Homo sapiens: one gene and its partner. The protein of the gene in region 2 interacts with the protein of the main gene of each other region in a pairwise test. Each region holds a gene or a part of one and is shown on either strand. Other genes may lie near its edges. The genes, in order: HTATIP2 and JPH1.

Region 1 (3,889 bases), on a different chromosome or scaffold from region 2:
AGCTTGAAATGTACTTGGCATACAGTAGGCCTTGGAAGAATTGACTGAGTCCCTCGAATCACTTTGCTTCCCTGGTGCAGACGTTAAGACAAGTTACATTAACATCTTTTGTTCTATGATGGAAATTAGCAATGTATGTTCCTCTTGGCTTTGACCCTTCCTTCTGCATCTTCCTTTGCCTTAATTTTTAAAGTGCAGCAGCATGAGCACTTTAAAGTTTGGTGGCATAGAATTTTACTGGCTATGTGAACATTTAGTAATTAATCACTAGAACAAAGGAGAAACCCAAATATTTCGATTTTGTTCATCCACAACATGTAGTAACAATCAACTGGAACTACCTGGAAATATACGGGAACAGAATGCTTTTGCAGGGTGCTTAAAAACACGATATATGGGATCTATGGGATCAGGCAGACCTGGGTTAGAATCCTGACTCTGCCATTTCTTTGCTTCAGTTCTTCAGATTTGGACTCTTGAGCAAGGCACTTAACCACAGTGAGCCTCATTTCCCCATCTAAGACATGAAGATCATGATAGTATCACTTTATAAGGATTGTTTATAAGAGGGTTAAAGCACAGATAACACATGTAAAGACTGGTACTTAGCAAGCATTTGGTAAATATTAGCTGCTATTATATCACCCCATAGGCTGAAATGCTGCATATCACACTACATGGGCATTTTCAAGCAATCTAAGAGGCACCCAGGAGTTGTCCATTCATCTTTATTCCTTTATTTAATCCTCCCCATGTATTATATAAGCTTAGGTATATAACTTCTATTACATAAAGAAGTAGTAAAGGCACAATGTTTACTTACACAATTACATGTAGTGAATTAGCACTTTTGTAACTCAGAGACATGAATGTCAACAATTTTAGAGCAGAGCTCATTTGCACGGTCATAAGGTTTTCATGGCTGCTGTGACTCTGCAGACAAGCATTTCAAAGCAGGCCCCCCAGCCAGTGGCATCGGAACCAGTGGCATCAGGGGAAGTATAAACAAAGAAAATTACAGATTATTGTGCCCACACCCCAGAAATTTTGATTCAAGTTTGAGATAGGGCTGACAAATCTTTATTTTTCCAAAGCTCCCTGAGTGATCTATATGTATAACCAGGCTCTGAACCACTGATGCAGAGCACCATCATTTCTTGATTGGAATGGATGCCTGAGGATAGTAAAACAACAAAGTTAAAACATGCTGACTTTTTTTAGACCCTGAAATTACCGATTTGGTGATGGGTGTTAAGGTTGACAATAAAAACCATTTCTCCAATGTGGTCATGGCTTGAGAGAGCCATGCGCTTTCCCCAGGTCATGGATGGCCTTGTTCTCCAGCAGTTCCATCTGCTTGTCTCTTGGTCTCACCACATTGTTCAGCATTGCTCTAACCACGGTCACCACAGGCACAGAATGCCCACTGGCCCAAGAGTCTGGTAAGGAGCCAAAGAACTTTCTAACCAGCCATTCACCTGGGCGAGATTCTTGCCTATCACATAACAGAACTCTAAAATAAAAAAAAAAAAAAAAGAAAGAAAAGCAGAGGAAGAGGTGGTAAATTGCACTGAGACCACAGTGGGCATTACGGACAAAACTGTATCCCCTCAATATTCTAATGTTGAAGCCCTAATCCCCAAGGTGTCTATATTTGAAGATAAGGCATTAAGGGAAGTAATTAAGTTTAATGAGGTCTTAAGGATGGAATAGGACTAGTGTGATGGGACTGGGGTCCTCATAAGAGGAAGAGACATCAGAGGTCTCTCTCTGTCTGCATACACTAAGAAGAAAGGCCATGTGAGGACACTGCCAGAAGGTGGTCTGTCTGCCAGCCAGGAAAAGAGGCCTCACCGGACACCAACCCTGAGGGCACCTTGATCTTGGACTTCCAATCTCCAGACTGCGTGAAAAAAAATTTCTGTTGTTTAAGACACCCAATCTGTGTGGTATTCTGTTATGGCAACCCAAGCAGACTAATACAGTAGACGTAAGGTTTTATTTGGCACATGAAGAGGATTTAAGAAGGCAGCAAATGCTGTCCAGGAAGTTCCAGACTATTCTGAAGCAGGCCCCACCATCTACCCTTTCTTTCTAAGCAAAAAGGTGTGTCCTTCAGAGAAGCAATCTACCTCTAGCCAATGTCTTTCATATCTTAGATATTTCAGCTGTCAGCCTTTCCAAATGAAAAATTAGTATCTAGGGATTAACCATCAGTGGCATACTCTCATTCAGTATAAATATTATACTTACCCAGGCCTAAATACAGAGTAACGATCAAATTTTAATTCTTCAACCTTGGCTTCTACTTCTCCCTATTAAGAAAAAACACATTTTCAGTATTTAATCGCGACCAGCTCACCTGTGTGAAGTTTAAGAGAGAATAATTTGTGGTTTTGAGATAATCTGCTTTTGCAGATCTCAATACTCAAAATATCCTTATCTAGAATTTTAGGTTCCAAGGAGTCTGGGAAATTAAGGAAGAGATCATTTAATCCTGATGTGTAGTCTTTCATTTAAAAGATCCACTAAATGAGTGAATGGCTGCATAGTCAGTCCTCTCACTTTATTGATATTAAAACAGATTCAGAGAGGGTAAGTCATACGTTAGTACAATCATAAAAGAATATCCTCTATTTAGTCCAGAATTCATGTTGCATGCTAGCAGACACTAACGTTTTTTTGGTTTATAGGTAGTTCCAGTGGGTCAGAAAACCATAGACCCACTATATTACTCACTTCTTAAACCTCACAAAATTTTAAGACAGATTACATCTAGATGATGCTTTAAATCTAATTTGTTAAATAAAGCATGCATTTTCATGGCAGGCATCTCTGGAAACAAAATGCCTGAGGAGCTCAGCCCACAGGCACTTCCAAAGGCCTGTGAACTACCACACGGTCATGCACGCCTCCTTCTTGGCCTGTGTGTACCACTCAATTGGCACTTAACCTGTCTCATCACAGACATTTAAGTAGCTATTTTTAAATATCTTTTTCTTTTTAAAAATTTTTTAATTTTAATTATTTATTTATTTATGTATTTTTTGTGTGTGATAGAGTCTCACCATGTCACCTAGGCTGAAGTGCAAGGGCATGATCTTGGCTCACTGCAACTTCCACCTCCCAGGTTCAAGCAATTCTCCTGCCTCGGCCTCCCAAGTAGCTGGGATTACAGGCATCCGCCATTATGCCTGGCTAATTTTTGTATTTTTAGTAGTGACGGGGTTGTCACCATGTTGACCAGGCTGGTCTCGAACTCCTGACCTCAAGTGATCCACCCGCCTCAGCCTCCCAAAGTGCTGGGATTACAGGCGAGAGCCACCGCGCTTGGCCATTCTTTTTTTTTTAATAGGTGGTTTTTAGTATATACACAGAACTCTGTAACCTTCATCACGATCTAAGTTTTAAAATATTTCATCACCCTGAAAAGAAATCCCATATCATTAGCAGTCACTCCTCGTACCCTACCCTCTGGGGACCTAGTCAACCACTAATGTACCTTCTATCTCTATAGATTTGCCTATTCTGGACATTTCATATAAATGAAATCATATAATTCGTGGTCTTTTGTGACTGTCTCCTCACACTTAGCATAATATTTTCAAGGTTCACCCATGTTGTAGTATGTATCATTTCTTTTTATAGCTGAATAATATTCTATTGCATGAATATATCACATTTTATTCATCTATTCATCAGTCGATGGCTATCTAGGTTGTTCCCACTCTTTGGCCATTATAAATAATGCTGCTATGAACAGTCATACACAAGATTTTATGTGTACACACATTTCTTAGCTTTTTTTTTTTTTTTTTTTTGAGATGGAGTCTCACTCTGTCGCCCAGGCTGGAGTGCAGTGGCGCAATCTCAGCTCACTGCAAGCTCC
Region 2 (3,920 bases):
ATATCCATTACAGAAGCCAGAAACTTGGTTTGTGCTCTGTGTTCCAGAAAATCCCTCATTTGCATGACAACTAATTAGGAAGAGTAATAAATAAAGAGATAAAGGTTTCCAAAATTTATCCCCTTAAAGAACATATATGGGTCCTAACACACTGGGTGGATCCAAAAAAAAAAAAAAGGCAAAGGGACAAAGACTACTCTATGAGGAAGTCTAGTTTAGAAAGAGACTCCCCCATTCAAAATATTGGCTTGAGCAACCACACTTTTTCTCATATCATACAGAACCTCAAAATATATGGGAATGCATCTTTCTACATTAGCTCCTGATTCTGGTGTATCCCATAACAGGGAAATGGAATTATGGCTCAGCCGCAAAGCCCTGGCCCTCATCTTCCCAGCGGCCTAAATCAATCCCCAGTCCAGGACAAGATGCTTCGAGAGATGCATAATTATTTCAGGCCACTAGGGTAAGCACTATTCCTGGCAACTCTGCGGGCAGTGCCATGGATGAGGGCTTCTAATTCTCTTTGGTGATTTGGTTCTGCATAAACTGAGATTTTTCTTTCAGTCTTTCAGCCAGATAAGTAGGAAAGGTCGGCTCTCGTCCTGAGAGAGAGGCAATCAAGGTCAATTTCAGTTCCTTTTCTGTGCAGTTTAGTCTACTTTTTCCCAGGCTGTCTTCCTGACACCTGTCCTTATATCTATATCTGATTATCAAATACTTAGTGAGAGAACCTTTGGCAGCTTCTGATGCTCGCATAGTCACCCAAAGGCCTCTCAGCCTAAGAAATAGCAGGAATACACTCCAAATCAGTTTCCTTGAGAGGCCAAACTAAGACCCTAGGCTGTGAAAGTGGGAGAAGTTTCTCCCGTGGGTATTTTGAGGGTGAGGTGGAGAATAATGCTTTCTCTCACCAGAGGCAATGCTGATCCAACTTGCCTATTACCAAATCTCTAATTTTTGGTTTGGCACTGCAGCCACAATATACTCAGTTATTACCGAATATAGAAAGAGAAAGGCAAATCTTGTTAGTCCCATTCAGAAGATGGTGAAATGGAGGTTTAAAAGTTTAGAAGAGTTGCCTAAAGTGAATTCGACAAAGCAGTGTTGTAGCTAGAAAGTAGACCAGCTGACATCTGTCCCTGGTTTTGTAGGTCACAGTTTCTTTGCAAGTTTAGAGCAGTGCTTTACTTACCATATTCCTCCTTGCAAACCTCTATTTACTTTCTTAAACAGTGGATACCAGTGGAGAGGTGTGCATTCCAGACACTTATACAATGTACACAGACCGAGCCGTCTACCTGTTGGGCACACAGCTCCAGGCTCAAGAATCTCTAAGGCTGTTAAGAAGCACAAACGAGGCACGAGAGGGGGCAGGCTCTAATGTAAAAGGAATATCCTGTACCACTGCAAAGGCCGATTGAAAACATCCTCTTCATCACTATTAATAAAAAACTAACCAATATATTCTGTGCTTTTTCAAACTGTACTGCTCACCCTCAGTGTCTTCATTAAATAAATGCAAACACGTGTGCTTTGAAACGGGTAGGTGTAAAAGAACACTCTGCACAATTATATCTAGGCTGCCGCAGATTTACATCACATGCATACATATATCTAGGCGATATTAATTCACGATGACAGCTGAGCATGACAAATGCAACAGTACACAAGTTGGAATGCGAAAACAATGCAACTACAAACCCCATGCAGACAAACACGCATACAATGAGTTTTCCCTCAACACACACGTGGCCGCACTCACAGGAGCTTAACCACTTTGAAAAACCCCAAACACAAACACCGGGGGCTCCGGCGCCCGCGAGCGGCCCCCACACAGGCAGCCGCGCCTTCATCTCCAGGCAGGGATTCTCGTGCGTCCCCGGGTACACTCGCCCTCCCACCGGCATCCCACTGCGCGAACACATGCGCGCCAGCCGGTCCCCGCGCGCGCCCGCCTGCCGAGGAAGCGGCGGCTCCCGGGGCTGGGGGCAGGGCCCGGTGGGGCGGGAGCGCCGCGGGGCCGGGCCTCGGCGCCCGGGGAGGGGACGAGGGGCGGGCGCGGGGCGGTGCCCGGCTCACGTGGGCGGGCGGGAGCAGCTGAAGGTCCGCTCGGGAACCTGGGCTGTCCTCTCGCGCGCGGCGCTGGCCCAGGCGGCGGCGGCGAAGGAGGAGGAGGAGGAGGAGGAAGGCGGCGGTGGCGGCGGCAAAAGAGGAGGGAGGACGGGGGCGGCGTCGGACTGGAGCCGAGCGGCAGCGCGAGCTGCCCAGGGCGCTGTCGTGAGCTCGCCCGCCGGGCCCCCACCCCCGAGCTACACCCTGCCGTGCCCAGCACTGCCCGCGTCCGTGCCCCTGCGGGGAGCGCGCCGGGGCTGCCCCCCGAATGACGGGCGGAAGGTTCGACTTCGACGATGGCGGCACCTACTGCGGCGGCTGGGAGGAGGGCAAGGCGCACGGGCATGGCATCTGCACGGGGCCCAAGGGCCAGGGCGAGTACTCGGGCTCCTGGTCGCACGGCTTCGAGGTGGTCGGAGGCTACACCTGGCCCAGCGGCAACACCTACCAGGGCTACTGGGCGCAGGGCAAGCGGCACGGGCTGGGGGTGGAGACGAAGGGCAAGTGGATGTACCGGGGGGAGTGGTCACATGGTTTCAAGGGGCGCTACGGGGTCCGGCAGAGCCTGTGCACCCCCGCTCGCTACGAGGGTACCTGGAGTAACGGGCTGCAAGACGGGTACGGCGTGGAGACCTACGGGGACGGAGGTGAGCGGCGTAACGGGCGGCTCGGCTGCTCCGCGAGCTGGTGCGGTGGGCTCTGCCCCGGCTGCGGGGAAGCGGGGAGGACGCCGGGCGCACGTGTCCGGAAACCCGCCAAAACACCTGGGGGCGCCTCCCACCCCCGCGCCCGCGCCCGCCTTTCCCAGAGAGGGCGCTGGGACCGGACTGGGGCGCGAGGGCTGGATCTGACCCCGTTCTTGGAGCGGGCCGTGTATCCACACTCAGGGGAGCTAGGCGTGAATGTACCTGGCCGGCGCCAGCGCTGCGCTGCCACCGGGAGGGAGCGCCGCCCGGGAGGGTTGGGCTGGAGAGAGGACGCTGTCACTTGAGCCCGTCACATTACGTTCCTGATCCCTCCCTCTCCCGGCCGGGTTTGAAATCGCCACTCCCGTGGAGTTAGAGCGAACACCCTGAGCGGGTGAGGTTGGCGGTCCGTGCTGACCGCTCCCGGGATTGGTTTCACGTGGAGTCGTATTTCGCTTCTGGTCCTCCAGTAGCCTAAAGATAGAAGCCAGAACCCCGTAACTAGGATGTTGGGGAATTGTACCTTATTTGGGGGTGCATTTGGAAACGTCCTAGTTATGGGAGCAGAAAGGCCACCTGATGCAGGTGGAGTTCAGAGTGTGTGAGTTCCTAGTTTTCATTCCGTTTCTTAAAGTATTGGTCTTAAAAGAGTAGCAGTCTTTGCTGACCTGGAGATCTTGGACAAATTACTAGGAAGATATTTTAGAAATGGGTAATGAAGTCTACATTTTAAAGAATACAATTAGCAGGTGTGTTCCTATAGCTGCTAAGTTAGCAGCTACTACTCCTGAGAATGGCAATACTGAAACAATAATTTGCATTATGTGTGACCTAAGCCAGTATTCCTGGCTGTGAACAAAGATCACCTTATTTTAATATTTAACAATATTTGCCAAAGAGATTGTGTATATACCAGGACAGAAGTTCCTCTTTTATTAGGAAAAGTATACATTATTGAAACAGGTGTCAAAACCTGATGAATTTCCTTGTGTAATACGCTGAGAAAGATATTCATGAATAGCTTATGCTTTAGCAAAGTGCATTTCCTGATAAACATAATCATATTTAGTTGAAAAGGGTTGTAGGAGGCGACATCACTTTTTGGAATTAAGCAGCTCA

The links.
Region 1: the proteins of JPH1 (region 2) and HTATIP2 interact in binary tests that used the Homo sapiens proteins (3 or more experiments, as listed by UniProt).

Annotation. Positions count from the first base shown.
Region 1 is NC_000011.10:20,380,604-20,384,492, reverse strand, and holds the end of HTATIP2 (protein HTATIP2), read right to left. Parts: intron 2,316-3,889; coding exon 2,254-2,315; intron 1,514-2,253; coding exon 1,288-1,513; 3' UTR 711-1,287; downstream 1-710. UniProt on the Homo sapiens protein: Represses translation by preventing reactivation of elongation factor eEF1A. May also inhibit nuclear import by competing with nuclear import substrates for binding to a subset of nuclear transport receptors.
Region 2 is NC_000008.11:74,319,751-74,323,670, reverse strand, and holds the start of JPH1 (junctophilin-1), read left to right. Parts: upstream 1-2,130; 5' UTR 2,131-2,383; coding exon 2,384-2,762; intron 2,763-3,920. UniProt on the Homo sapiens protein: Junctophilins contribute to the formation of junctional membrane complexes (JMCs) which link the plasma membrane with the endoplasmic or sarcoplasmic reticulum in excitable cells.